Homo sapiens: one gene and its partners. The protein of the gene in region 1 interacts with the protein of each later gene in a biochemical or structural test. Each region holds a gene or a part of one and is shown in the gene's direction. Other genes may lie near its edges. The genes, in order: KPNA1, SENP2, NOSIP and CSE1L.

Region 1 (7,023 bases):
GATAGTTTCCTCATTTGTACACAAGAAAAGCCAGATACTTTACATCTCTGGGTTGTTGTAGGGATCATCTGCGAGTATGTGAATAGTACTTTGAAAATATAAAGTGGCCGGGTGCGGTGGCTCATGCTTGTAATCCCAGCACTTTGGGAGGCCTAGATGGGAGGATGACTTGAGATCAGGAGTTCAAGGCCAGCCTGACAAACATGATGAAACCTCGTCTCTACTAAAAATATAAAAATTAGCCGGGCGTGGTGGCACATGCCTGTAATCCCAGCTACTTGGGAGGCTGAGGCAGGAGAATCACTTGAATCCGGGAGGTGGAGGTTGCAGTGAGCTGAGAACGTGACATTGCACTCCAGCCTGGGCAACAAGACTGAGACTCTGTCTCAAAAAAGAAAAAAAAGAAAATATAAAGTACGGTACAAATGTCAAGTTTTAATTCAGACGTACTGAAAGGGACTGAGTGTTGCTTTCATTAGTAATTTAATCATAGAGATAAATATGGGAAGAATTTTTATTTCATGATATCTGGGGTTTAATCTGTAAGTCCCCAGAATTTTTGTTATAACAAAAAGGGACCAGATACGGGCTCTTTAACCGAAGTACTCCTACTCTGGGCCTCCCTGCTGCTACTAAACCACCTTACCTCACTCATGTATGTCACTTTTATAGTTTTCTTTGGAACATCCATTGGTTATGTGTCTTCTGCTATGAATTTTCTATCACTAACATGGCTTTGAACGTGATTTGATCAGATGGCCCATTTTCCTGTCTTCCTCTATTCCCAAAGATTAATGAATTTAGTTTTCTACCTGACAGCTACCTTTTAGTTAATCTGGAAGCTTAGAAGAATCACAGGTCATTTGATGACGACTTGTTATTTTCTCTGATTTAAAGGACATGCCATGGAATTTTTCTTTTTTTCTGTGTATGTGCTTTATTAAATAGAAGACAGAATGGTGGAAGAAACAACCTGAAATGTAATTAAGAACTCTTAACTAAATAGAAAAGAGTTCATTATTGGATTTCTCAATATTAAGCTAAAGAGTCAAGTTAGTGTTAGAGATATATTTTAGTAATATGCTCTATTTTTTGTTGGCCATAATTTCCTTTATATCTTCTGTTTACCAGTGCTGTAATGCTATATATCAACCTTTAGTCAGTTTACCTTCATTTTTCCCTCCCTATTAAGAATGCCCAAAAAGTCCTATCTCTGTATTTTGGTTTGGAGCTCTCTCATTTATTGGAAGCTCTTATTCTTTGAAGTTGTCATTTCTTTTCATTATGTGCTGTTAACTCCTTTCACCTACTTATCATTTGATACCTTTTGCCTTTTTCACTGTGCCTGTATTTTATGTTTCACACTAACATTCTCCCCCCATTTTACTTTGCCCATTCTACAGAAGTTTTTAAATCTTTTTTATTAGATAACATACATGGTACAGGCTAAAAGGCACATAAAGCTTTCCAGTGAAAAGTATCTTTTTCATCCTTATTCCCTAGTTACCATCACCTTTCTATGCAGGCAACAAGTATTTAGTTTCCTCTAACTCATTCTGAAGATAATCTGTGCAATAAGTAAATTAATGCATATATTCCTTTTTAACGCTTTTAGAAAATATGGTATAATGCCATATTAATGTACACTGTTTGCATTTTGTTTTCATTTATATCTTGGGAGATCATACCATATCAGCATATGTAACACTCTCTCATTCTTTTTATGGTGTCATGTTTACTCTTTCTTGAACTGAAATTTTAGACACCCTGAATATTCTTCTAGGTTGAGGTATTTCTTCTGGATATTCTTCTTTTAAAATTAATATAGTACTCAACTGATAGGTTATGTGCAAATAATGATCTCAGAATCTTTTTTTCATGTACAGAAAATGTTACTGTTATAAGTAAACAAACTTTTACATTCTAAAAAGATAATGAAAATTATTTTTATCTTTATAGTTTGAATCAGCTTGGGTACTGACAAATATTGCTTCAGGAAATTCTCTTCAGACCCGAATTGTGATTCAGGCAGGAGCTGTGCCCATCTTCATAGAGTTGCTCAGCTCAGAGTTTGAAGATGTCCAGGAACAGGTAAAAATGAAACAAAAAGAAGCAGGTGAAAGAAAGTTTTTGGCTGGGCATGTCGCTCACTCCTGTAATCCCAACATTTTGGGAGGCCAAGGTGGGTGGATCACGAGGAGTTCGAGACCAGCCTAGCCAACATGGTGAAATCCCGTCTCTACTAAAAATACAAAAATTAGCCGGGCATGGTGGTACGTGTCTGTAATCCCAGCTACTTGGGAGGCTGAGGCAGGAGAATTGCTTGAACCCGAGAGGTGGAGGTTACAGTGAGCCGAGATCGCGTCATTGCACTCCAGCCTGGGTGACGAGAGCAAGACTTTGTCTCAAAAAAAACAAAACAAACAAAAAAAGAAAAACAAAAAAAACCACAAAATTTCCCAACATAATAAGGGGCTGAGTTTCACCAGTTGGCTTTGGTAATCTATGGATTGTCACAAAGGAGTGTTCTAGAAATTTAGTCTTAACCAAATAGAAAATTTCTTAGTGACTGTAGGCAGAATTTCTCTTAGACACATAAAATAATCTTCCCCTTCCAAACCTGACATTCTTTAAGCCCTGTATATGTACTTTTTTAGACCATGTAAGCAGTTACTGATAGAGGTTTTTTCTTGTAGAAATTTCAAGTGTTGAAAGTAGGCCAGGTGCTGTGGTTCCTGCCTGTAATTCCAGCACTTGGGAGGCTGAAGTGGGCAGCTTGCTTGAGCCCAGGAGCTCGAGACCAGCCAGGGCAACATGGCGAAACCCAGTCTCTACAGAAAATAAAGTAGGTGGGCATGGTGGCACACGCCTGTTGTCCCAGCTGCTTGAGAGGCTGAGGTGGGAGGGTTCACTTGAGCTCCAGGAGGCTGAGGCTGCAGTGAGCCGATATCACACCACCGCACTCCAGCCTCGGTAACAGAGTGAGACCTATCTCAAAAAAAAAGAAAGTGGCTAGTCTTTGCCACTTTTGTGCAGAAAAGTACAGAAAGCAAGTTTCTTTTTGTTCACTGTTTTCTTATGTAAGCAAGAAAATACTCTCTTTCTGTCTCTTTTTTTCTTTCTGTCTTTCTCTCTTTCTGTCTCTCCATCTTTCCGTCTTTCTTTCTCTCCGTCTCTCCATCTCTCCTTCTCTCCGTCTCTCCTTCCCTCTGTCTCTCCTTCCCTCCGTCTCTCCTTCCCTCCTTCCCTCCGTCTCTCCGTCTCTCCCTCCCTCCCTCCTTCCCTCCTTCTCTTGCTTCCTCCCTCCCTCCCTCCCTCCCTCTCTCCTCCCTCCCTCCTTTCCCTCCCTCCCTTCCTTCCTTCCTTCCTTCCTTCCTTCCTTCCTTCCCTCCTTCCCTCCCTCCCTCCCTCCCTCCTTCCCTCCTTCCCTCCTTCCCTCCTTCCCTCCTTCCCTCCTTCCGTCTGTCCCTGTCACCCAGGCTGGAGTGCATTGGCTCAATCTCGGCTCACTGCAACCTTGGCCTGTCAGGTTCAAGCAGTTCTCATGCCTCAGCCTCTCAAGCAGCTGGGATTACAGGCGCCTGCCACCACACCCGGCTAATTTTGTATTTTTAGTAGAGATGGAGTTTCACTGTGTTGCACTCCATACTGGGTGACAGAGCGAGATTCTGTATCAAAAAACAAAAACAAACAAAAATGAATTAGTTCTTTCCTTTAATAAACCGAATACCTTCTGTTTGTTGTACACTTTAGGATATTATTTATCTTCCTCCCCCAATCCTACAACTGTTTCATTTGACTCCCTGATGAACGTGTTATTGTGATATACTGGCATCTGAAAGAATTATGAGGGAATTAAACTATGTAACCTTTATTAATGAATGATTCTTTCACAGGCAGTCTGGGCTCTTGGCAACATTGCTGGAGATAGTACCATGTGCAGGGACTATGTCTTAGACTGCAATATCCTTCCCCCTCTTTTGCAGTAAGTTTCTTCTTCCTTCTTCCTTTTTTTTTCTTTTTGAGAATAAAAATGTAAGAGATTCCTCAGAAAGCATTACATGTTTGGAAATCATTTTGGATTTTCTAGTGTTATTTTTAATTCCAGATATTTTCTTGTTTAGATCATTTCCTCAAGCACCCTATCTTTTTCCATGCCAAAATTCTGAATTCTGAATTACTTGCATCAGAATTAATGAAGTTTTAATGTTCTGGAGAAAAGCTATCTGAAGACATCTCTTTATCAAAAGTATTATTATTTAGTATTTATGTCATCAGATAATCACTGTCTGTTACATAGTTTACCATTGTACCATCGTGCTTTTAGGTTATTTTCAAAGCAAAACCGCCTGACCATGACCCGGAATGCAGTATGGGCTTTGTCTAATCTCTGTAGAGGGAAAAGTCCACCTCCAGAATTTGCAAAGGTAAGGACTATGCTTTTGGGACATTGGCAGAAAAAATACAATTAAAAGAGTATTGCAACCAATGGTAAGGTGAACAGGAAGATAATTTTTGTTAAAATTTAAAATGTTAGAATTTTATCTGTTTTTGGAGAAACAGGGTTGTTGTTGTTTTTGTTGGTTCTCTTTATTATTTAAAAAGCAAATTTAGAGCATAGCTTGAAGGTGCACATTTACGATGGGACTGCAAATAAAGCATAGCATGAAGGAAGAATTTGTAAAGCTTATTGAAATTAGGCTTCATACAATTAGTATACTGTTTAGGAGACTATCCTTTCAGTTCTCTTAAAACAGTGGTTCTCAAAGTGTGGTCTGTGAGTTCTCTGGGAGTCCATGAGATTCTTTTTTTTTTTCCAATAGGTTTTTGGGGAACAGGTGGTGTTTAGGTACATGAGTTACTTGTTTAGTGGTGATTTCTGAGATTTTGGTGCACCCAACACCCAAGCAGTGTACGCTGTACCCAGTGTGTAGTCCTTTATCTCTCACCCACCTCCGACCCTTTCTCCCTGAGTCCCCAAAGTACATTGTATCATTCTTACGCTTTTGCGTCCTCATAGCTTAGCTCCCACTTATGAATGAGAACATCTGATGTTTGGTTTTCCAGTCCTGAGTGACTTTATCTACTTGTTGATTGATGGGCATTTGGGCTGGTTCCATGTGTTTGCAATTGTGAATTGTGCTGCTATAAACCTGCGTATACAAGTATCTTTTTCTTATAATGACCTCTTTTCCTCTGGGTAGATACCCAGGAATGGGACTGGTGCATCAAATGGTAGATATACTTTTAGTTCTTTAAGGAATCTCCACACTGTTTTCCATAGTGGTTATACTGGTTTACATTCCCAGCAACAGTGTAAAAGTGTTCCCTTTTCACCACATTCATGCCAACATCTATTTTTTGTTTTTTGGTTTTTTGAGACGGAGTTTTGCTCTTGTTGCCCAGGCTGAAGTGCAGTGGCGCGGTCTCGGCACACTGCAACCTCTGCCTCCTAGGTTCAAGTGATTCTCCTGCCTCAGCCTCCCGAGTAGCTGGGATTACAGGCGCATACCACCACACCCGGCTAATTTTTGTATTTTTAGTAGAGACGGGGTTTCACCATGTTGGCCAGGTTGGTCTTGAACTCCAGACCTCAGGTGATCCACCCACCTCAGCCTCCCAAAGTGCTGGGATTACAGGCGTGAGCCACCACGCCCAGCTGCATTTTTTAATATGTTTGTTGGCTATTTGTATATCTTCTTTTGAGAATTGTCTGTTCATGTCCTTAGCCCACTTTTTGATGGGATTTTTTTTTCTTGCTGATTTGAATTTCTTGCAGATTCTGGATATTAAAATAAATGGGTATTTTTGTAGTTGTTTTTAATTTGGAATCATTTTTCACTGAACAAAACCTTAGCATTTTTGGTCTTTAACAAAGTATCTAAAATACAGAATTTCCTAGTTTTCACATTTGTGAAAGTTCCTTTACCTGTTTAGTCCACAAAGAATGTGTTTTGATAGGGAGTCTTACTCCAAGAATTGATGTATATAAAACTTTGCTCTCTGAAATTATTTTCCTTGGGCTTTGACTACAGATTAGTGCAAGATCACTGACAACATTGCCAAAGATGGAAATGCCACTTAGGTACTTGCTGCTTCATCTTTAGAAGTGTAAATCACCCTAGAAGTCACCAAGTACATGCCTGGTTGCCTTCTTGAGTATCTCACCTCACTTCTGGCTTTTAGTCTATTGAATTTCATAATCATCATTTTCCTTTTACAGGTTTCTCCATGTCTGAATGTGCTTTCCTGGTTGCTGTTTGTCAGTGACACTGATGTACTGGCTGATGCCTGCTGGGCCCTCTCATATCTATCAGATGGACCCAATGATAAAATTCAAGCGGTCATCGATGCGGGAGTATGTAGGAGACTTGTGGAACTGCTGATGTAAGATATCTTTTAGAAAGTGTGTCCACTTTCTCTCCCTTGGTACTAGTTTTCTAGCTGCTAATACTTAAATATTAATGGATTGTACATGATAATTGATTTATTGTGCTTTGGGCTACTGTTTTTGTTACTTGTTTATTTTGATGTCAGATCTGTTTGTCTTGTTTTATTGAGGCTTATAGAGAACCTCTTAGTCCTCTGCTGTTAGCAGGCCTTTAGCAGAAACATTGGGAAAACTCTGATATGTGTAGTTCCAGGCTCATACTGGATGGCCTGAGATCAACCACCGGACATCAGAAGGCATACTGCCACTAAAATAGTCATTCCTTATCTGTCTGTCTCATTTAGAGCTTATTTTAGACAAGTATCAGAAATTCAATCTTATTTTGCTTTATCATCTCCGTGATGCTTTTGATAATGGAGTGGAAGATTTACTCGTGACATAAATAATTTGAGACTGTATTAATCAAATTTTTAGATACTACAGAAGAAAAAAATGAAAGTGATAACATAATGGAGAAATGGTACAGTTACAAGGTATGGGAGATTTAAAGTACAAAGTAGATGCAAAGAGACATTGTCGCAAACATGACATTTGGAATATATTAGATAGTTATAATGTATTAATACAAAATA
Region 2 (7,023 bases), about 63 Mb from region 1:
GCCTCCTGAGTAGCTGGGATTACAGGCGTCCACCGCCACGCCCAGCTAATTTTTTGTATTTTTGGTAGAGATGGGGCTTCACCATGTTGGCCAGGCCGGTCTCGAACACCTGATCTCAGGTAGTCCACCAGCCTCAGCCTCCCAGAGTGCTGGGATTACAGGCGTGAGCCACCGCACCCGGCCTACTATCTAGCTTTTGAATGCAGAAATAACAGATTGTTTGCGAATAATCAGTTGTGAACTTTAAAAAAAAATTCTTTTGGTTTAGTCAGAATGTCAGTATTTTCTCCATTTTGACCAGCCATATGTTGGAAACAGCAGTATGTTTAACGAACTCTTAACTTTGTCATGTTGGCGAAACCCTCAAACTATTTTTGCTTTTTAAAGTTGCTGCTTTGGCTGGGCACAGTGGCTCACACCTGTAATCCCAGCACTTTGGGAGGCCGAGGTGGACGGATCACGAGGTCAGGAGATCAAGATCATCCTGGCTAACACGGTGAAACCCCATCTCTACTAAAAAATACAAAAAATTAGCTGGGCATGGTGGCTGGCACCTGTAGTCCCACCTACTCGGGAGGCTGAGGCAGGAGAATGGCGTGAACCCGGGAGGCGGAGCTTGCAGTGAGCAGAGATTGTGCCACTGCACTCCAGCCTGAGCTACAGATCGAGACTCCGTCTCAAAATAAATAAATAAATAATTAAAGTTCCTGCTTCTGGCTGGGTGTGGTGGCTCACACCTGTAATCCCAGCGCTTTGGGAGGCCGAGGCAGGTGGGTCACTGGAGGTCAGGACTTCGAGACCAGCCTGACCAACATGGCGAAACCCCATGTCTACTAAAAATACAAAAATTAACCAGGTGTAGTGGCGTGTGCCAGTAATCCCAGCTACTTGGGAGGCTGAGGCAGGAGAACCACTTGAACCTGAGAGGTAGAGATTTCAGTGAGGCCATGATCACACCACTGCACTCCAGCCTGGGCGACAGTGCGAGACTCCGTCTCAAAAAACAAAAAGTTCTTGCTTTTAATGTATTGTTTCAGGATCCATTTAAATACATAGCTTAAAAAGTTTTTTATCTTTTAATCTGAGTTTTATCACACTGAGATTTTTCAGTTAGTGCATCACTGGGGATTCAGAACCTCTGATTTTACAAACAGAGAAACTGGAGGTTAGGTGACCTGGCTGAAATATTATTAGAATCATGATTAGACTCCTTTTATCCTAGTCCCACATAGTTGCTTCCTTTCTGTTGTAATTTGATATAATAGTGTAATCAATCACCCCTATTTGGAGAAGCTTGCTGGACAGAGATAATGCATATTAATGGTAGACTTTGCTTTTGTATCTGATCTCCCTCACTTTTTGTGTTTCTAAGTTCTCAAAGAAGTCAGATGGACACATTAAAGACCAAAGGCTGGGGGGAAGAGCAAAATCACGGAGTCAAAACAACTCAGTTTGTTCCAAAACAATGTGAGTTCCCAGATTTAGCCTTGTCTTAATATATTGACCTTAGTTCATGCTACAGTGTTCATATGAGGTAGAAAATTGACATTCAAGTGTAGATGGTGTACCAAAATACTGTCAAATCTCACAGCATTGGGCCGGGCGCGGTGGCTTACGCCTGCAATCCCAGCACTTTGGGAGGCCAAGGCAGATGGATCACCTGAGGTCAGGAGTTCAAGACCAGCCTGGCGAACATGGTAAAACCCCATCTCTACTAAAAATACAAAAATTAGCCAGGCATGGTGGCACTTGCCTGTAATCCCAGCTACTCAGGAGGCTGAGGAAGTAGAATTGCCTGAACCTGGGAGGTGGAGGTTGCAGTGAGCCAAGATCACGCCACTGCACTCCAGCCTGGGTGACAGTGAGACTCTGTCTCAAAAAAAAAAAAAAAACCTCACAGCATTGACTGGGGCTTATCTAGGAATTTAGTAGAAAAGCTGTTTCAGGGTGAAGTAGATTCATAACATGGCTCTGGATTATTATTCCTAAGCTGCTAGATAGTAGCAACTATTTTGTGAGCTGAAATTTTATTATATTCCTTATATAACAATTTCCTTATACTTCTCCACTTACTGTCCACTAAATGACAGCTTACCAGATAAGCAGATATCACTCAGTTTATAGTAAAGATTATATTTAAACAGCAAAGATATGTATGCATTTTTTTAGGCAACTTAGTATATAGGGAGGCTAGTGTCTTTGGAATTCACTGTAGCATTTCAATGTAGAGGAATGTCTTGATGTTGTGGAAACTCTGTAAGCTGAAATTCTAACTATATTATTCATCGATGAAGGAAACATTTAATCTTTTCTTTACCATCCTCACAGATAGACTTGTTGAAACAAGGGGACCTCTATGTTCATTGAGAAGTGAAAAGAGGTACGTACATTCAGTTCATTCTACACTTTCTTTTAATATATATTTTCTTACTTTATAAGCTGTATTTATGAGTAAGCAGTTCTGAGGAATTGTGAACTCTCTTGAGTTCTGGTAGTTGGTCAGCATATAGGGTAGATAGGTAGCTAGCTGTTGTGTCAGATGCCCACCCTAGCCTGGTGGGTTGAGGGGGGTGCCCCTTATCTCCCAGGCGTCAGGGGTTGGGAGAAACACATGCTTCTTAGATGGGAGTTTGGTTGGAGTGGGGATGTCTAGTGTCAGTGTCTTTAGGATAGGAACAGTAAAGGCAGCTCTGCATGCTTTAGGATTTTGGGATGATGGTTTATAGCAGAGTTTGTAAACTATGGCCCATGGGCCAAATCTGGTCTACTTGCCTATTTTTGTATAGTAAATTTCTATTGGAACATGCGAATTCATTTACATACTGTCTGGCTGCTTTTAAATTACAGTGGCAGAGTTGCCACGATGTGCCCAAGACCATAAAACCTGCAAAGCCTAAAATACTGTCTGTTCCTTTTCAGAAAAGTTCGTTGACTCCTGGTTTAGAGTATTATGTAAACTCAACACAATTTTTATGTACAAATTACGAAATCTTATTTCTAAAACTAGGATGTACTAGGTTTGAATCATCTAGCAGAAGTCTATCATCTCTCAATTTTTTTCCTTAGGTGTTCAAAGGGGAAAATTACTGATACAGAGACGATGGTCGGAATCAGATTTGAAAATGAAAGTGTAAGTAAAAATCCTAGTTACATTTGATACCTGTTTACTTATGTAACTTATGTTTTGGTGCCCATGAAAAGCAAGAAAAAGTATATATATATAACTTTGATTGTTAATTCTGTTGTTTTTCTTTAAAAAAGCAGCAAGCCAGCCAGTCACAGTGGCTCATGCCTGTAATCCCAGAACTTTAGGAGGCCAAGGCAGAAGGATCACTTGAGCCCAGGAGTTTGAGACCAGCCTGGGCAACATAGTGAGACTGTCTCCACAAAAAAATTTAAAAGTTAGCCAGGCATGGTGGCATGTCTGTAGTCCCAGCTACTTGGGAAGCTAAGGTGGGAGGATTGCTTGAGCCCAGGAGGTCAAGGCTGCAGTGAGCTGTGATCACACCATAGCACTCCAGCCTAGGTGACAGAATGAGACTCTGTCTCAAAAAAAAAAAAAAAAAAAAAGGCAGGAAGCATTGAAAATACACAACTTTTTTCTTCCTTCTGAGTTGTTGGAGTTTTGCCTCTGTACAGTAGCCACCTTTGTTTATGAGAGACCAATCTGCCTCCATACCAACATGTTACCTACATTTTATGGCTTCTTAGGGAGAATTTCTTAAAAATCATACATCTCTGGAAAGAGATGATATGTTCTGGGTTGCTGGCAGAATTCTATTTGTTTACTACAATTGTGGTTATATAGGTGTTCATTCAAATTAAGTGGTACATTAATGTTTTGTGCATTTTCTGTAATATCAAATGACTTTTTTCAAGGATAAACTAGAACCAAGTTGAGTTACTATAAAGATAGTAGGGATTTATTCTGAGTGATGGGATTGTGGGTCATATTTTTTGCTGTTTAAAACTTTCATAATATCTTTTAAACATACTAATTTTAATTGTGATAGGAGAACTGAAAATACTTTTCTTGCTACTTCCAGGGAAGGTGGTGAGTGTTCTGTTTGATGGTTCATAACTGAGGGTCCTGTGAGGCCTAGGTCTGGAGCTTTTTTTGCTCCCCCTTGCAGGGACAGACAGATAGGGTAAATCTACTCACTTGGGGGATTTGCTAATTCTCTTTTCTTTCACATTAGTGGCAGTTTTATATTTCATGTGTAATCTGTGTTTATATTTGCAAGTATCAAACATGTCAGTAGAATTTAGATAATTTTTTGATCAGAGGAGGGGATACCAACTGGAGCCTGACCTATCAGAAGAAGTGTCGGCCCGACTCCGCCTGGGCAGTGGAAGCAATGGCTTACTCAGGAGGAAAGTGTCAATAATTGAGACAAAGGAAAAGAATTGCTCAGGCAAAGAGAGGGACAGAAGAACGGACGATCTCCTTGAACTTACAGAGGTATTGTTCTTTGTATTGATCCTAAAAAGAGGCATGTCTTTAAATAACCTCAGTTATTCTAACTTGAATGTTTTGTTTTGAGGACTTTCTCCAGGCTAGGGGTGAATATATGAAAACATGTCAGGTCCATGGTCTGTTGATTCACTTTGACTACATTGATCTTTAGTGAGGCATGATCATTAGTGGCCTAAGGGATCAGATTGATATTCAGCAAATGGGGAGTCGACACAGTCATCTCATATCTTGGAATACAACAGATTCTTTGTAAATTCTAACCTTCAAATATGTTGAGTTATATAGTATGGGTTTGGCATTAAGAATAAGTTCATTGCATTTTTTTTTTGAAAGTTATTATAGTTTACTAAAATGCCCCCTTTGTTGATTATTGCATTTGAAAATAGTAAAAACTTACAGAACATAAAGAATGAAGGTAGTTAAAATTCTTATTTTAAAGATGTGCCCACATCTTGGCTTCCTCCACAATGTTGCCCTAGTAGGCAAATCTCTTGAATACTTACTGTTATATTGGGCATGTAGGTGGAGAGAGAGATCCATAAAATGGTGAAGCTGTGTGCAGTGGGAAGCAGCATATATTTAGAAGAAAATAATTTCTTTTTTTTGAGACAGAGTTTCGCTCTTGTTGCCCAGGCTGGAGTGCAATGGCGCGATCTTGGCTCACTGCAACCTCTGCATCCTGGGTTCAAGTGATTCTCCTGGCTCAGCCTCCCTAGTAGCTGGGATTACAGGCACCTGCCACCATGCCCAGCTAATTTTTGTATTTTTAGTAGAGACCGGGTTTCACCATGTTGGCTAGGCTGGTCTCGAACTCCTGACCTTAGATGATCTACCCACCTCGGCCTCCCAAAGTGCTGGGATTATAGGCGCAAGCCACTGCCCCCGGCCTAGAGGAAAATAATTTCTATTGGGTTTATAGATTTAGTTTTGTATCTTAAATAATGCATTTATCTGCATAATTCTTTAGTATGATGAAGCCATTTATTCCATAAGGAGTCAATTGCTAGACTGCTGGGTGGTTTCCAAGTTTCTGCCTGTTTGCTTATTCTCTTCATGTCAAAAAGGATGGTGTGACCCCTTAGATGTCCTAATCTTATTTTGATGTTTTATTTATTTATTTATTTTTGAGATAGAGTCTCGCTCTGTTGGCAGGCTGGAGTGCAGTGGCACAATCTCAGCTTACTGCAACCTCTGCCTCCCAGGTTCAAGTGATTCTTCTGCCTCAGCCTCCTGCGTAGCTGGGACTACAGGCGCGTGCCACCACGCCCAGCTAATTTTTGTATTTTTAGTAGAGATGGGGTTTCACCATGCTGGCCAGGCTGGTCTCGAACTCCTGACCTCATGATCCGCCCGTCTTGGCTTCCCAAAGTGCTGGGATTACAGGCGTGAGCCACCACACCCAGCCTTTTTTGATGTTTTAAAAGTTTAAAGGCGAGAATGGGCGTGGTGGCTCACGCCTGTAATCCCAGCACTTTGGGAAGCCAAGATGGGCGGATCATGAAGTCAGGAGTTCGAGACCAGCCTGGCCAGCATGGTGAAACCCCGTCTCTACCAAAAATACAAAAAAATAGCTGGCATGGTGGTGTGCACCTGTAATTCCAGCTAATCAGGAGACTGAGGCATGAAAATTGCTTGAACCTGGGAGGCAGAGGTTGCAGTGAACTGAGATCATGCAGCTGCATGCACTCCAGCCTGGGTGACAAAGTGAGAATCTGTCTCAAAAAAAAAAAAAAAAGAAGGGCCAGGCTGGTGGCTCACACCTGTAATCCCAGCACTTTGGGAGGCCGAGATGGGCAGATCACGAGGTCAGGAGATCGAGACCATCCTGGCTAACACAGTGAAACCCCGTCTCTACTAAAAATACAAAAAATTAGCCGGGCGTGGTGGCGGGCGCCTGTCATCCCAGCTACTCGGGAGGCTGAGGCAGGAGAATGGCGTGACCCCGGGAGGCGGAGCTTGCAGTAAGCCGAGATGGCGCCACTGCACTCCGGCCTGGGAGACTGAGCGAGACTCCGTCTCCAAAAAAAAAAAAAAACGTTTAAAGTGGAAATCAGGAGTTTACTATTATGAAGGGAGCAAAGTCCAGGAAATTAGATGCACCTGGGTTCAAATCTTCTTCTACCTTTTAATAATTATATGACTTTGAATATGTAAAATAAATTCTCTGGGTTTCAATTTTCTTCTCTATAAAATGATAATAATGTCTTCCTCACTAATATGGATCAATGATGTGCTTCAAGCATCTAACACCATGTTTGACTCATAGTGGTTAATACGTAGTAGTAGGAAAATTGAGACTATACTTTAGATGTAAATATTATTATTAAATTATTGTTTCCACAAGCTAATAAGTGAACCAGGATTTGTTGTAAGTATTACTTACAACAATTAAGTAAGGCTGCTTTGTAGTTATAAGTTAAAATATTTTCAGGGCTGGTGCAGTGGCTCATGCCTATAATCTCAGCACTTTGGGAGGCCAAGGCAGGTATTGCTTGAGCCCAGGAGTTTGCAACCAACTTGGGCAATATAATGAGGCCCCATCTCTA
Region 3 (7,755 bases), on another chromosome or scaffold:
CAAGGGGGTGGGGCATCGGAGGCCCGGAGGGTGGTCCTCCAGTGGGCAGAAGGCCTTGGGTCCTGGAGCCTGGCTAGGTGTGGTTGCTAGGGAGAAGGCCTCCTTAGCAACCAGGCAGCTGCTGGGATGGGGCTGTGGGGGAGGGGAAATCAGCCAGGTACTGCTTCAGGCTTCTTCGTCTGGTCTGGCCTGGCCAGGCCCCGTTGCTAAGGAGCAGCCCCCCTTAGCAACAAGGCTGGCAACAAGATGGGAACAAGATGGCAACCCCTCAGAGAAGGGGTTCTTGGGGGCAAAATGGGCAGGTGAGGATGGGCAGGCTTCCTCCCTTGGTCGTGTTGCTAGAGGGCTGTGTCCCCAGCAATCAAGCTGCCGGAGGGGCTGGTCTTTCCACTTACTCTGGACACCAGGGAAGGGTTCAGGTGGGCCTGCCCCTCTGAGCCTAAGGCCTGACGGGCCCCACAGCTCTAACCTTTCCCTCCACTGACACTTTTCCCTTCCTAGGGACACAGGACTTGCGTCCAATAAGATGTGGTGGGGGGCCTGGCACCTATAATCTCAGCAGTCTGGGACACTGAAGCAGAAGGATTGCTTGAGGCCAGGCATTCAAGACCAGCCTGGGCCACATAGTGAGACCCCGTCTGTACAAAAACTACAAAAATTACCATGGTAATGTGTGCCTGGAGTCCCAATTACTCAGGAGGCTGAGGTGGGAAGATCGCTTGAGCCCGGGAGGTTGAGGCTGCAGTGAGCCAAGATTGTACCACAGCACTCCAGCCTGGGTGACACAGCGAGACCCTGTCTCAAAAATAAATAATTAAAGGCCTGGCGCGGTGGCTCACGCCTGTAATCCCAGCACTTTGGGAGGCCGAGGCGGGCAGATCACGATGCCAGGAGATCAACACCATCCTGGCTAACACGGTGAAACCCCGTCTCTACTAAAAATACAAAAAATTAGCCGGGTGTGGTGGTGGGTGCCTGTAGTCCCAGCTACTCGGGAGGCTGAGGCAGGAGAATGGCGTGAACCCGGGAGGCGGAGCTTGCAGTGAGCCGAGATCGCACCATTGCACTCCGGCCTGGGCAACAGAGCGAGACTCTGTCTCAAAAAAAAAAAAAAAGCAAAAATAAATATTTAAAAATAAAATAAGGTGTGGGGGGCTCCTCAGGCAAGCTGGGGTCTTAAGGGAGGGAACTCCTTTAGCAGCCAGCTTCAGAGAGCACAGAATTGGGGGGCAGACGATTCTTGTACCTAATTTGGGGTGGAGGACGTTGGTTTGGCCTCGCTGGGAAGGGACTACCTTAGCTGCACAGAACAAGATGGCTTCAGCCCCTCACTCACCTCCTTTGCCATTGTAGATGTAGCTCTCCCAAAAGCGCTCCTTGAGGGGGAAGGAGTGGAAAAGAAGGGGAAAAAGCAGGAATTCAGCTGGGAGGTTCACACCCCCAAACTAGCCCATCCTGATTTCTGAGACACCAAGGAGGAGGGAGCTGAAGGCCAGAACCTACCCCTGCAACCTCCCCACAGGTATAGAGAAGAGAGAGGGCCCGAAACTCCAGGGTCTCGAGGCCCTCACCGTGAGAGTGTTGTCCTCAAAATACTCCCTGGCCTCTTCCCAGGAACACCTCTCTTCCAGACACTCCCGTTCCAGGTTCCCTGGTGTGAGCAGCTCCAGGTCCCAGTGGTTGGCTCTTGGAATCCGGGTATGGCTACTCAGGAAGCTCTGGGCCTCTGGGGGACCCAGGAAGACTTCTGGACCCAAAGACATGAGGGACAGAAAAATGGAGGGTCCCTAGGGCTGGAGTCATAGGGGGATGGAAAGCAGTGGGGTCCTGGAGGAAGGAGCAGGGGCTGGGAATCCAGATTCCTGGGTCTGAAGGAGGAAGGGGCTGGGTCCTGGACTCCTGGAAGAGGAAGGACTAGAAACATTCCTGAGTCAGGGGGAGGCCAACGCCAAGTGTCTGGATGCCACTTCCCCCAAACACTCACCTTGGTCTGTCTCCTCACTGGGTGAAGTATCCAGGCAGGTGGTTAATGCCATATATAGCAGCAGCAGAGAGGGGTGGCCCCTCATATTTTCCAGACACCTAGAACCAGGTTTGTTACAGCTGACAAGGGCCTTAGTCCCTGGGTAATGAGGCAGTGCCTCTCTGACTGGCCTCTGTGGTCCACGAATGGCAATAATAGCAGCCACTTACACAGCCTGTATTCTGTGCCAGATACTGTTTACCTATATAAACTCATTTTACTTTTTTTTTTTTTTGACATGGAGTCTCGCTCTGTCAGCCAGGCTGGAGTGCAGTGGCACAGTCTCAGCTCACTGCAACCTCTGTGTCCTGGGTTCAAGCGATTCTCGTGCCTCAGCCTACCAAGTAGCTGGGATTACAGGCATGCGCCACCACACCCGCTAATTTTCTTTTTTTTTTGAGACAGAGTCTCGCTCTGTCACCCAGGCTAGAGTGCATTGGTGTGATCTCCGCTCACTGCACACTCCACCCCCCAGGTTCATGCCATTCTCCTGCCTCAGCCTCCCGAGTAGCTGGGACTACAGGTGCCGGCCACCATGCCCGGCTAATTTTTTTGTATTTTTAGTAGAGATGGGGTTTCACTGTGTTAGTCAGGATGGTCTCGATCTCCTGACCTCGTGATCTGCCCGCCTCAGCCTCCCAAAGTGAATTTTCATATTTTTAGTAGAGATGGGGTTTCACCATGTTGGCCAGGCTGGTCTTGAATTCCTGACCTCAAGTGATCTGCCTGCCTCAGCCTCCCAAAGTGCTGGTGCTGGGATTACAGGCGTGAGCCACTGTGCCCGGCCTCAACTCATTTTACTTTTCACAGGAGTCATACAAAAATTAGCCAGGCGTGGTTGTGGGCGCCTGTAATCCCAACTACTTGGGAGGCTGAGCCAGAATAATCACTTGAAAGGGGAGACAGAGGTTGCAGTGAGCCGAGACTGTGCCACTGCACTCCAGCCTGGGTGACAGAGCGAGATTCCATGTCAAAAACAAAACAAAACAAAACTTTTCACAGGAGTTTTTTTTTTTTTTTTTTTTTAGACAGAGTCTCGCTCTGTCACCCAGGCTGGAGTGCAGTGGCGCTATCTCAGCTCACTGTGACCTCTGCCTCCTGGGTTCAAGCGATTCTCCTGACTCAGCCTCCCGGGTAGTTGAGATTACAGGTGCGCACCACCACGCCTGGCTAATTTTTTGTATTTTTAGTAGAGATGGGGTTTCACCATGTTGGCCAGGCTGGTCTCAAACTCCTGACCTCAAGTGATCCACCCGCCTCGGCCTCCCAAAGTGCTGGGATTACAGGTGTGAGCCACTGCGCCCGACCAGGAGTCCTATTATTATCCCCAGTATAGAGAACAGGAAACTGAGGCACAGAGAGGTAATATAGCTTGCCGAAGGTCACACAGTGTGCAAGTGTGAGAGCCAGGATTTCAGTGAAGGCAGTGTCCGCCAGAGAAGAAAGCAAGGAGCAGGCAGCTTATCTTTCTTTCCCCACTGTGTCTACAGCACCTGACACAGATGCTTATAAACATGTCCACTGGTGATCTGGAGTCTTCCCTTCCTGGTAATTTCCACTTGTGCCTCTTTCTGTGCTCATTGTCACATCCACCCACAGACAACAAAGATTACGAGAGAGGCAGAGGCAGGGGATTAGTTATATTATTGGGTCTAGGGACCTAAGTGGGCAGGGGCCCTGGACTCCTGGGCCTAGGAGCCCCAAACTTCTGGGTCTCGGAGGGGCGGGGAGCCAGGATGCCTGGGTCCCCAAGCCAGGCTCTTCCTCCAGGGACATTCACTTACCTGCCCAGAAATGTGAGCACTGCCCCTTCCTCTTTAATCGAGAACTCCTTGGCCAGCTACAGCCAGCTGTGAAAGGGGACAGGGAAGAGGGGAGGGGATAAGGAGGAGGGGCGCCCCACTCCCGGTAACCAGGCCTGATCCCCGTTTCTGGCAGGTGGGCGGAACTTGCCATTACCTGCCCTGGGCGGGACTCAGGTAAGGGACAAAGTATTTAAAGGGACCTTGGGATAAAGGACTTAAAGGCCAGAGCTCCATGAGGAAGCCAAGGTGTCGAATACCATGGGATACCTGGGGGATTAGATTCGACCCTCCTCCTCCCTCCCGACCCCTACCCGCTCTGGCTCTCCCCTGGGAGTTCGTCTGTCCGAGCTAGAAAAATTAATATCTAGGTCTCTAGGTATCTAGAAACTAGCGGGAACGATATGCCTTAGTCCCTGGGACAGCTGGGCAGTGCCGCAGTAAATCCCTGTTTCCTGAGAGCGACTTGAACGGCTTTGATTTTCAATTTCCCAATGGCTCTGTCTGTAAAATGGGAGCGTAGTTGTCTCTTCTCAATTGTTTTAAGATGCAGCAAGAAAAGTGGATGATATATTTGGGAAAGTGGGCTTCCCGATCTCTAGGGGAAGTGATTAGTCCTTAAATTTGGGCTTGGAGAGACTCAAAACCTGGGAACCAAGCAGGAAAAAACGATCTCCCTGGGAAATGCCTCGTACATAGTAAGCGTTCCCCATATTCCCACCAGTTTCAATATCCGGAACTTTCGATTAGCTACTCACGTTTCCGGAGAGAGAAAGAGAAGAGAGGACTTGAGCAAGCCAGGCGAGGCACTTCCGCAACTAGGGGCAGCTCTACTTCCGGTGCCTTCTGCTGGGCGGAAGTGGGCGGAGCGGAGGGGGAAAATAGTGCTCCTTTCCGGTGTCGGGGCACAGTTGAAGAAGCGACCGAGGGACTGGGAGTCGTTAGTGAGGTGAGTTCGAGGCGGTGCAGGAAGAGTGTTGCTGGGATCGCTTTCCTGCGGGCTAGAGGCCTGGGGTCTTGAGGGAGACTGGGGCAAGATTTTGGATTCCCGATTCCCTGTCAATCATTATTAATACAGCTGTCCGGGCGCCCCAAGTTTGAAGCTGAACTACACTCTGCTGGAGGTGGCCAACCGTCCATCGGGCAGTTCTCTCTCTCTTTGTCTCTCTCTCTCACTATAAACTCAGTCAAGTGGTAGCTAGCATCGGCCAGTTCTCCTGAGAGTTACAGTTCTGCTGTAGATGATGGCTATTTGCTGGTGGTCCCAAGGGAAGGAGTGGACTGGGATTGCTGGGGGTCTAAGGAGTGGGAGTTGAGGAGGGAGAACTCCTTTCCTGGCCTCAGTTTCTCAGACTGTGGTGGGACGGCGGGCGATACTAGATTGTGCAGTCATCCATCGCCACCTTCTCTTCACCTTTTTGACAGCCCCTTCCCTTTCGGGGTTGGTGCAGGGATTCACGTTTTCTTGTGTGGAGCTTCGGGGTCAGGCAGTCATGGATTCCCATTCTGATTGTGCTGCTAATTCTGTGAACTTGGGGCTTGAACGGTCCTTGAGGCAGTTTGATGTTAATGTTTTCTTACGAAAATGTTCAAACTTATATAAAAGTGAGAGAAGAATACAGGAATTCCTGTCACCCAAATCACCAATGATTATTTTTGCCATACTTGCTGTATTTTTTTAAACTTAAAGAGATTAAAACAAATCGTAGGCATCATGACACTTAAGGATTGTCAAAAGACAAAATTGCAACACATTTAGTGAGAAGATCTTAATTGGCATTTATTCGTGAATCTACAATCAAACAACATCTAATTATGGAAAATAGCGTGAGTGTTCCGATGAGCTGAGCAGAGGTTGTTTTCAGAGACAAAGGGCTGAGAAAATCAGAAACGGAAAACAAAAAGCTAGTTGATTAAATTGATTAACTTGATTAAATTTCTAAGTTAAAGGTTAAAGTAGAGGGGACTTCCTTTATCAGGTGGGCTAAAACTGGGTTGTTTGGGGATTTGGCTATTATCTCTCTCCTGATATCTCAGAAGATCAGATATCAACTTAGTTTTGGCTTGGAAGCATGGAACTTTAGCATGAGTGTCTCCATTTTGGTTTGGTCTGTTGAACCTAGTGCAGGAGCTCAATCCAAACCAATGACCTTCTATAAATTTTATCTAACAGGGTGCGTGTGTAAAAACCAGAAACATTGCTGATATGACCACAATACCATCATCACACTTTAAAAGAACAACCGTAATTCTAGACTACTATCCATTACGTGGTGCAGAGTCAAGTCCAGTGTAACTGTGGGTTTGTTGGAATCAGGATATAGTTAAGTAATTGCTATCGTCTTTTACATCTCTCTTAATTTAGAACTGTTCCCCCTTCCACTCCACTTTGGTTATTTCTTGGTGTAATCGATTCATTGAAGAAACTAATTCTAGTTCAGTTGATCATCCCACCATCTGAATTTGTCCCGTTTGCTTTTTTGTGGTCTCATTTTACCTGCTTCTGTTTTCTTTCTTTTTTTTTTTAAGTATTTAAAAATAGGCCAGACACAGTGGCTCATGCCTGTAATCCCAGCACTTTGGGAGGCCAAGGCGGGCGGATCATGAGATCAGGAGATCAAGACCATCCTGGCTAACACGGTGAAACCCCTTAGCCGGGCATGATGGCAGGCACCTGTAGTCCCAGCTACTCAGGAGGCTGAGGCAGGAGAATTGCGTGAACCCGGGAGGCAGAGCTTGCAGTGAGCCGAGATCACGCCACTGCACTCTAGCCTGGGCGACAGAGTGAGACTCTGTCTCAAAAAAAAAAAAGAAAAAATAGATAGAGACAAGGTGTCACTATGTTGCCCAGGCTGGTCTCAAACTCCTGGGCTTAAGCGATCCTCCTGCCTTGGCCTCCCAAAGTGCTGTGCTTAGATTACAGGTGTGAGCCATTGAGCCCGGCCTCATTTTACTTGTTTCCTCATGCCAGGGATCAGCTAATTATGTTCTACAGACCAAACTCAAATCCTGCCAGCTACCTGTTTTAAAAATCCCCATTGGGCAGGCACAGTGGCTCATGCCTGTAATCCTTGCACTTTGGGAGGTGAAGGCAGGTGGATCATCTGAGGTCAGGAGTTCGAAACCAGCCTGGCCAACATGGTAAAACCTCATCTCTACTAAAAATACAAAAATTGGCTGGTCATGGTGGCTGGCACCTATAATCCCAGCTACTCAGGAGGCTGAGGCAGGAGAATTGCTTGAACCCTAGGGACAGAGGTTGCAGTGAGCTGAGATCATGCCACTTCACTCCAGCCTGGGCAAAAGAGCATAACTCCCTCTCAAAAAAAAAAAGCATTAGTGGGATATGATTTACCTAACATATAGTTCACCCATTGAAAATATACAATTCAGTGGTGTTTAGTACGTTGACAGAGTTGTGCAACCATCAACACTATCATTTTAAGAATATTTTCATCACCCAAAAAGAAACCCTGGTACTCATTAGCAGTCATTCCCTATTTCCTCCCAATCCTTCCCACCCCAGTCTTTGGCAGCCACTACTCTGCTATATCTGTGGATTTGCCTAATCTGGGTATTTTGCACAAATGAAACCATAAAATATTATTGTGACTGCCTTCCTTCTTTCATTTAGCATGTTTTCAAGGTTCACCTATGTTGTGGCATGTATCAATACTTCTTTTTTTTTTTTTTTTTCCCGAGACACGGCCTTGCTCTGTTACCCAGGCTGGAGTGCAGTGGTTCGATCATGGCTCACTGCAGCCTCAACCTCCTGGGTTCAAGTGATCCTCCTGCCTTGGCCTCCCAAAGTACTGGGATTACAGGTGTGAGCCATCGGCGCCCAGCCAGCTACTTTATTCTTTTTATGGCTGGATAATATTCCTTTACCCAAGATATACTTCTTTTCTTTTTTTTTCTTTTTTTGAGACA
Region 4 (7,023 bases), on another chromosome or scaffold:
TTTCATTCTAAAAGCATTTGAGGCTGCTTACTAAAATAGGTGCATTATGACAATACAATTTAATAAACTGGAGCCAAGGAAAGTAACTGAGATAAAGTTAATAAACAGAAATGTGTGTCAAAGGATCCTATATAGTAGTCCAAGAAACTCCAAATTTTATTTGGAGTCTCTTAGCAGCCAGGGCAAAGAGGGAAACTTGGGAAGTTAAAATTTTCACAGGGTCTATGAGATAAAAGTTAAAGCAGAGAATACTGTACAATAGTAGTAGTAGTGTTCTCAGCAACAATCATGTAACAGTTATTTTCATGTGGCTATTTGCGTAAGGTCACTTATTTCTGAGATATGACCTAACCGAATGAAAGTAATTCACTGGGGACCAAGAAAATAGGTCTTCTGGCCTGAACCAGGATGAAATGTAGAGGAATGGATGGTCTGCATGTCTTTCAGGCCACTATTCAACAGTATTATTTCTTGAAATGAGCTTTGGGTAAGAGATGGAAAACAGTTCTAGGTTCTTTCCTTCATCAAGAACTTGAAGTACAGATACTCTCAGTGGCCAATTAAGGGTAGAAAGGACATCCTTTGAGGTGAGTCAAGCCAGTACCTATCTTCAGGCCCAGAATTTATGCAGAAAACAGTTCTGAATCTTGGCTCCACCTCCAAAAACAAAATAAATGACAGAGTCCCCTGAGATTCTGAGTTCTTTCTCAGTGGTAATAGATATAAACCAGGGACAACTGTTTCAACTTCAGATGTTGTTGGGTTTAGCTGGCTTTTTGGTTCAGTTGTGTTTGGTTCTCGATGTGCCTTCTTAGGAGCCTAACATGAGCACATGTAAAAAAATTATTTTCCTAAACTGTCTATCAATTGTCAGTGGTGGGAGATGGCTCAGTTTTATGCTGAGAAGGGTGACATAGTGGTTGCCAAGGGTAATCTGCAGTGACAAGCTCAAGAGTTGGTAGTGACTGAAAGCTGTTTTTTCATCTATAGCTTTACAGCTGCAGAAATCGCACCGTTTGTTGAGATTCTGCTAACAAACCTTTTCAAAGCTCTCACACTTCCTGGCTCTTCAGAAAATGAATATATTATGAAAGGTAGGCTGTTTCCCTGGTGTGCAGACTACAGGTATCCAATCTCAGATTGTAAGGGTGAGCACTCTGAGTTATACTTCAGGTTATACAGTCTATGAACCAGATAATGTTTACCAAGTAGTAAGTTAGTTTAGATATTTCAAAATGAAAAACATTATCTTGTTTACTACTAACAATAATTTTTTTTTTTTTTTTTTTTTTTTTTTGAGATGGAGCCTTGCTCTGTTGCCCAGGCTGAAGTGCAGTGGCTTGATCTCAGCTCACTGCCACCTCTCCCTCCTGGGTTCAAGCGATTCTCCTGCCTCAGCCTCCCGAGTAACTGGGATTACAGGTGCACTCCACCATGCCCGGTTAATTTTTGTATTTTTAGTAGAGACAGGGTTTTGCCATATTGGCCAGGCTGGTCTCAAACTCCTGACCTCAAATATCTGCCCGCCTCAGCCTCCCAAAGTGCTGGGATTAGAGGCCACTGCACCTGGCCAACAGTAATCTTAATTTGATATGGAACTTCTCATTACAGAAAATGTAGCAAAGCCCTTTTTTCCTTCCCTAGATTGAGTTTCTTTAAGGCAAAGAAGAGATCATGCAACGTTTATTAACTGCATGCTCACCTAGGTAGGGGTGAAATGTGGGTGCCTGTGGTAGACTCTGCACAAATCGTGTCTTCTTACGTACTGCCAAGGACACAGGCAGCTGTATCCATCCACAGGCTGGTGTATCCATCCACCAGGCACTACATTAGTTGAGTGTCCTGGTGCCAGCTCTGAATTTAGAGATAGTCTCAGTGTTTTTCACTGTTGCATCCCAAAAGCCTAGCACATTGGGTTGTAGGAAGCACTTTTCAGAGAAACTCCCTGATCTTTTCAGTCTGGATCAGAAATCCTAGAGTGGATGTGTGTATCTGGGTGTATGTTTCCAACACTATCCTTCCCCCAACAATGATGTATAATTGTGTAATTATTGTTGTTTAATGTCCTTTTTTTTTTTTTTTTTTTTTTTGAGATGGAGTTTCACTCTTGTTGCCCAGGCTGGAGTGCAATGGCACAATCTCAGCTCACTGCAGCCTCACTCTCCTGGGTTCAAGCGATTCGCCTGCCTCAGCCTCCCGAGTAGCTAGGATTACAGGCGTGTGCTACCATGCCCAGCTAATTTTGTATTTTTAGTAGAGACAGGGTTTCTGCATGTTGGTCAGGCTGGTCTTGAACTCCCGACCTCAGGTGATCCACCCGCCTCAGCCTCCCAAAGTGCTGGGATTACAGGTGTGAGCCACTGCGCCCAGCCTTAATGTCCATTTCTATGAGAGCGGCTAACTAGTCTGTAATCTTCATTACTGTGTTTTTAGGGTATGTAAGAATACACAGTATGTAATACCTTCTCTGTACGGTTGTATGAGTGAATGAAATAATTCTGCGCCAGCCTAGTGGAGGAGCACCAATTTATCCTCTAGCCCTTTTAACCCAGGTCAGGGAAGGATTTTCTCTAGGAAGTGATCTCTAAGCTGAGATATGACCTAACCGAACGTTAGGTGTGAGGGATAGGTAGCAATCTGTTGAAGGGTGGATGAGTCTTTGACTCCAGTAGAGGAGGAAACATGATGTGCAGAGTTCAGGAGGCAAGAGCAGATAGCTTTCTGTCCTTTATGCTTGGCATGTATTTGGGGCTCTGCTTAGTAAACATTTATTTTAGAAATGTTATTTGTGGAAAGAGAGCTTTTATACATTTTTAGCTGACAAATTTATTTTTCTCCCATGCTTCCTATTTTTAACCCATTTATGGTCTTTTGAGCAATATTTTTGCAATTTGGACTCTGTGGCTTTACATGTATTTTTAGAATTTTTTTAGGCTCCTAATCTCTTTTTTTGAGGGAGGTGGATAGGCAGTTTTCTCTTCAGTTTCCTGTAGTTTGTGATCATGTTTCCTTTAGGCTAGGGCTAAACATTTTCTGATGCTGGTTTCTTTTTCTTTTTCTTTTTTTTTTTTTTTTTTGAGAGAGAGAGGGAGTCTCGCTCTGTCTCCCAGGCTGGAGTGCAGTGGCATGATCTTGGCTCACTGCAACCTCCACTTCCCAGGTTCAAGCGATTCTCAAGCCTCAGCCTCCCGAGTAGCTGGGACTACAGACGTGCACCACATACCTGGCTAATTTTGCTATTTTTAATGGAGATGGGTTTTGCCATGTTAGCCAGGTTGGTCTCAGACTCTAGCCTCAAGTGATCCGCCAGCCTCGGCCTCCCAAAGTGCTGGGGTTACAGGTGTGAGCCACCAAGCATGGCCTCTGCTACTGATTTCTAAGAGAAAGAGACCCCAAACAGTTCTCTCTCAGACTCACCTGCTCCATTCATGTCAGCTCACTGTTTCTTCCTCTTAGTCAACCTCTTTAATTATTTTTTAAACCTTGAGCCTTCTAGAAATACTCAGTATTTCCCAGCTAAATTTTGTTGCCAACCCGTCCTAATTTTAAAAGGAAGGGAAATTTAGATTATTTTTAAATGTAGAGAGCTATCTCGGGGTTGTCTAAGCATCTTAAAATTTAGTTGATGAATTAGTGCGCTTTTTTCCCCCCAGTCGCTCTCTTATTCTGAAGTTTAACTAAACTCTATTTGTTTTTGCTGTTTTTGTATTTTACAGCTATCATGAGAAGTTTTTCTCTCCTACAAGAAGCCATAATCCCCTACATCCCTACTCTCATCACTCAGCTTACACAGAAGCTATTAGCTGTTAGTAAGGTAATAGAGCCAATTTTGAAAGTGGGGTTCCTTTTTTATTTGCTCCAAACTGTTTGGGCCTCAGAACTCTTTGGCATTACGTGAAGCTTTAGAGAAGGTCTGTGAATTCTTCCTGACCAGCCACTAATGGACTTTTCTGAAAGTGTGGGCATGCTGTTAGATTGGAGACGTAATAGCAGTCACCTTTAAGTGTGTGCTAGAAGCTTGAATACATTTTCATTCTCATTACAAAAGTAACATGTTTATTGTAGAAAAAGAAAGTGCAGATGATCCAAAATTACCTTAAATGGAGTTAAGTAGGCTTTGCACTAAATGGATATAAAAGAGGCTGTCTGGACTTCTATGAAATGATGATTAAAATCCTTTGTGTTGTCTTTTCTTCCTTACTCTTATTTCTCAAAAGGAAAGTTCACTCTGATCAAAATTTTACAGATACTTAGATTCATGTTTATTAACACTAAATTTTAGAAAATAAATCCGTTTAAGGCTGACAGAATTCCTTTTTAGATGCTATTCTTGATCTTATGAGAATTAGATCAATTCATAGGAAGTGTTGGAGGGATTTTGGAGAACAGAGTGATTATTATTCAACTGAGTTAGGGCTAAGGGTCTTTGGACTACTTAGGGCCTTGAGGGATGGAGCGGGGAGGGAACCCAAGTCTCCGCCTCCCATATGTATTACCATCTCATGTTCTGATTGAGTTAGATTTGTATGCTAGTAGCCTTCCAAGAACTTGTTTAAAGAAAAATGGGGTTTTGTTGCTTAAAAAGAACATAAAAAACTACTCATTTGGGGGATTATCAGTAAGTAGACATAGACATTGAGGCCCACAGAAGTTAAGGCTAGTGGCATTACTAGGACTTAGTATTTCTTCTCTGCGAGGGCACGTGGGCTTAAGACAAGTTACAGCTCTGGGATCTGAGGTTTGTATAAGCAACTCTGTAACTCTGAAGTATTTTTTTCATGGTGGACTTTGGGCCATTTAAAAAAAAATTCAAATGAACAAGCACTAGGGTATAATTGGTGTTTTTTTCTTAATTTTGATTTTTAAAAAATAAGATGGCCTCTATTTTAAATGTGTTTTATAAAGGTTAGGTGTGGATTATTAGCATAATTAGGTTTTTTTTTTTTAATTTCAGAACCCAAGCAAACCTCACTTTAATCACTACATGTTTGAAGCAATATGTTTATCCATAAGAATAACTTGCAAAGCTAACCCTGCTGCTGTTGTAAATTTTGAGGAGGCTTTGTTTTTGGTGTTTACTGAAATCTTACAAAATGATGTGCAAGGTAAGTTAACGGAAATTATTTTCTTTGTAATGGAATAAAATTAACATGGCTATAAAATGCAGCCCACCTAAGCGATGTGGGCCTTTTGTGTCAGTCATTCCTTCTGAAGCTCACAGCTCTGTTTTTACTTTTATCAACAGAATTTATTCCATACGTCTTTCAAGTGATGTCTTTGCTTCTGGAAACACACAAAAATGACATCCCGTCTTCCTATATGGCCTTATTTCCTCATCTCCTTCAGCCAGTGCTTTGGGAAAGAACAGGAAATATTCCTGCTCTAGTGAGGCTTCTTCAAGCATTCTTAGAACGCGGTTCAAACACAATAGCAAGTGCTGCAGCTGACAAAATTGTGCGTCAGGTTTTGATATAACTGTAATTTTATAAAGTAGCTTGGAGAAACTGGGGATGGCAGATGTTTGAAATTTTTTTATTTAAAATAAATTTAAGGCTGGGGGCAGTGGCTCAAGCCCACCACTTTGGGAGCCTCTAGTGGGAGGATCCCTTGAGCCGAGGAGTTTAAGACCAGCCTAGGCAACGTGGTGAGATCTATCTCTACAAAGGAAAAAAAAGCTTTTTAATTAGTTGGACACAGTGGAGCATGCCTGTGGTCCCATCTACTTGGGAGGCTAAGGTGAGAGGGTCGCTTGAGCCCAGGAGTTTAAGGCTGCAGTGAGCCATGATCTCACCATTGCACTCCATCCTGGGCAACAGAGCTAGACCCTGTCTCTTAAAAAAAATAATAATAATAATAACGGAAATAATTAGTAGAAAATGTTATGGTATGTTTTATCAGAATTCTGTATCCTTTAGTTATTTATATCCATGATGGAAAATTTTAAAAACAGAGCCAAACAGGTTGATTTTAAGAACTTAACTTTGGTCGGGCGTGGTGGCTCACACCTGTAATCTCAGCACTTTGGGAGGCCGAGGTGGGCAGATCACCTGAGGTCAGGAGTTCAAGACCAGCCTGGCCAACATGGCGAAACCCCGTCTCTACTAAAAATAAAAATTAGGTGGGTGTGGTGGCACGTGCCTGTAATCCCAGCTACTCAGAAGGCTGAGGCAGGAGAATCGCTTGAACCTGGGAAGCAGAGGTTGCAGTGAGCCAAGATCGCCCCATTGCACTCTAGCCTGGGCAACAAGAGTGAAACTCCGTCTCAAAGAAAAAAAAAATTACTTTAATGGCTACGCGGGAGGAATTGTTCCCCATATGTTTCAGAAATAATTAAAGAGAAAAGGATAGATTATTACAGTATGAACTCTGTTTTAAGACATATATCATGTTTAACTTTTCGAATAATTATTCCTGTTAACCATTTTCTGTTGGATCTCATTTCTTAACAGCCTGGGTTACTAGGTGTCTTTCAGAAGCTGATTGCATCCAAAGCAAATGACCACCAAGGTTTTTATCTTCTAAACAGTATAATAGAGCACATGCCTCCGTGAGTATGACTAGAACTTTGTGCATTTATTTAGAAATTTTGTTAGGTGCTCAGAAAAGTCCTAAATTTATATTGTTGATTTTTTTTAATTCTTTAGTGAATCAGTTGACCAATATAGGAAACAAATCTTCATTCTGCTATTCCAGAGACTTCAGAATTCCAAAACAACCAAGTTTATCAAGAGTAAGTAAAATCATCTGGATGTTCTACAGAAGTAATGAAAGAAGGTAGCTAAAACCCTTAGACTTTATGGTTGCAGATACATTTTTTATCCGTTTTAAACTTTATGCAAAAAATACTTGGCCACGTGTGGAGGTTCATGCCTGTAATCGCAGCACTTTGGGTGGCCAAGGGAGGCCGATCGCTTGAGCTCAGGAGTTCAAGACCAGCCTGGGCAACATGGCGAAACCCTGTCCCTACGAAAAGTACAACAAAATTAGCCAGGCATGGTGGCATGTGCCTGTAGTCGCAGCTGC

What was found.
Region 2: the proteins of KPNA1 (region 1) and SENP2 form a complex in vitro, tested with the Homo sapiens proteins (one study listed by BioGRID).
Region 3: the proteins of KPNA1 (region 1) and NOSIP form a complex in vitro, tested with the Homo sapiens proteins (2 studies listed by BioGRID).
Region 4: the proteins of KPNA1 (region 1) and CSE1L form a complex in vitro, tested with the Homo sapiens proteins (one study listed by BioGRID).

The regions. Positions count from the first base shown.
Region 1 is NC_000003.12:122,448,938-122,455,960, reverse strand, and holds part of KPNA1 (importin subunit alpha-5), read left to right. Parts: intron 1-1,959; coding exon 1,960-2,091; intron 2,092-3,896; coding exon 3,897-3,985; intron 3,986-4,327; coding exon 4,328-4,427; intron 4,428-6,223; coding exon 6,224-6,387; intron 6,388-7,023. UniProt on the Homo sapiens protein: Functions in nuclear protein import as an adapter protein for nuclear receptor KPNB1. Binds specifically and directly to substrates containing either a simple or bipartite NLS motif.
Region 2 is NC_000003.12:185,610,279-185,617,301, forward strand, and holds part of SENP2 (sentrin-specific protease 2), read left to right. Parts: intron 1-1,372; coding exon 1,373-1,467; intron 1,468-2,328; coding exon 2,329-2,380; intron 2,381-3,066; coding exon 3,067-3,130; intron 3,131-4,285; coding exon 4,286-4,462; intron 4,463-7,023. UniProt on the Homo sapiens protein: Protease that catalyzes two essential functions in the SUMO pathway.
Region 3 is NC_000019.10:49,577,534-49,585,288, reverse strand, and holds the start of NOSIP (nitric oxide synthase-interacting protein), read left to right. Parts: upstream 1-4,732; 5' UTR 4,733-4,774; exon of another isoform or gene 4,775-6,148; intron 6,149-7,755. Other genes in the region: PRRG2 (transmembrane gamma-carboxyglutamic acid protein 2 isoform 1 precursor), read right to left, coding at 1,337-1,376, 1,572-1,747, 1,985-2,069. UniProt on the Homo sapiens protein: E3 ubiquitin-protein ligase that is essential for proper development of the forebrain, the eye, and the face. Catalyzes monoubiquitination of serine/threonine-protein phosphatase 2A (PP2A) catalytic subunit PPP2CA/PPP2CB.
Region 4 is NC_000020.11:49,084,293-49,091,315, forward strand, and holds part of CSE1L (exportin-2), read left to right. Parts: intron 1-990; coding exon 991-1,094; intron 1,095-3,716; coding exon 3,717-3,814; intron 3,815-4,954; coding exon 4,955-5,105; intron 5,106-5,245; coding exon 5,246-5,454; intron 5,455-6,449; coding exon 6,450-6,547; intron 6,548-6,644; coding exon 6,645-6,730; intron 6,731-7,023. UniProt on the Homo sapiens protein: Export receptor for importin-alpha. Mediates importin-alpha re-export from the nucleus to the cytoplasm after import substrates (cargos) have been released into the nucleoplasm.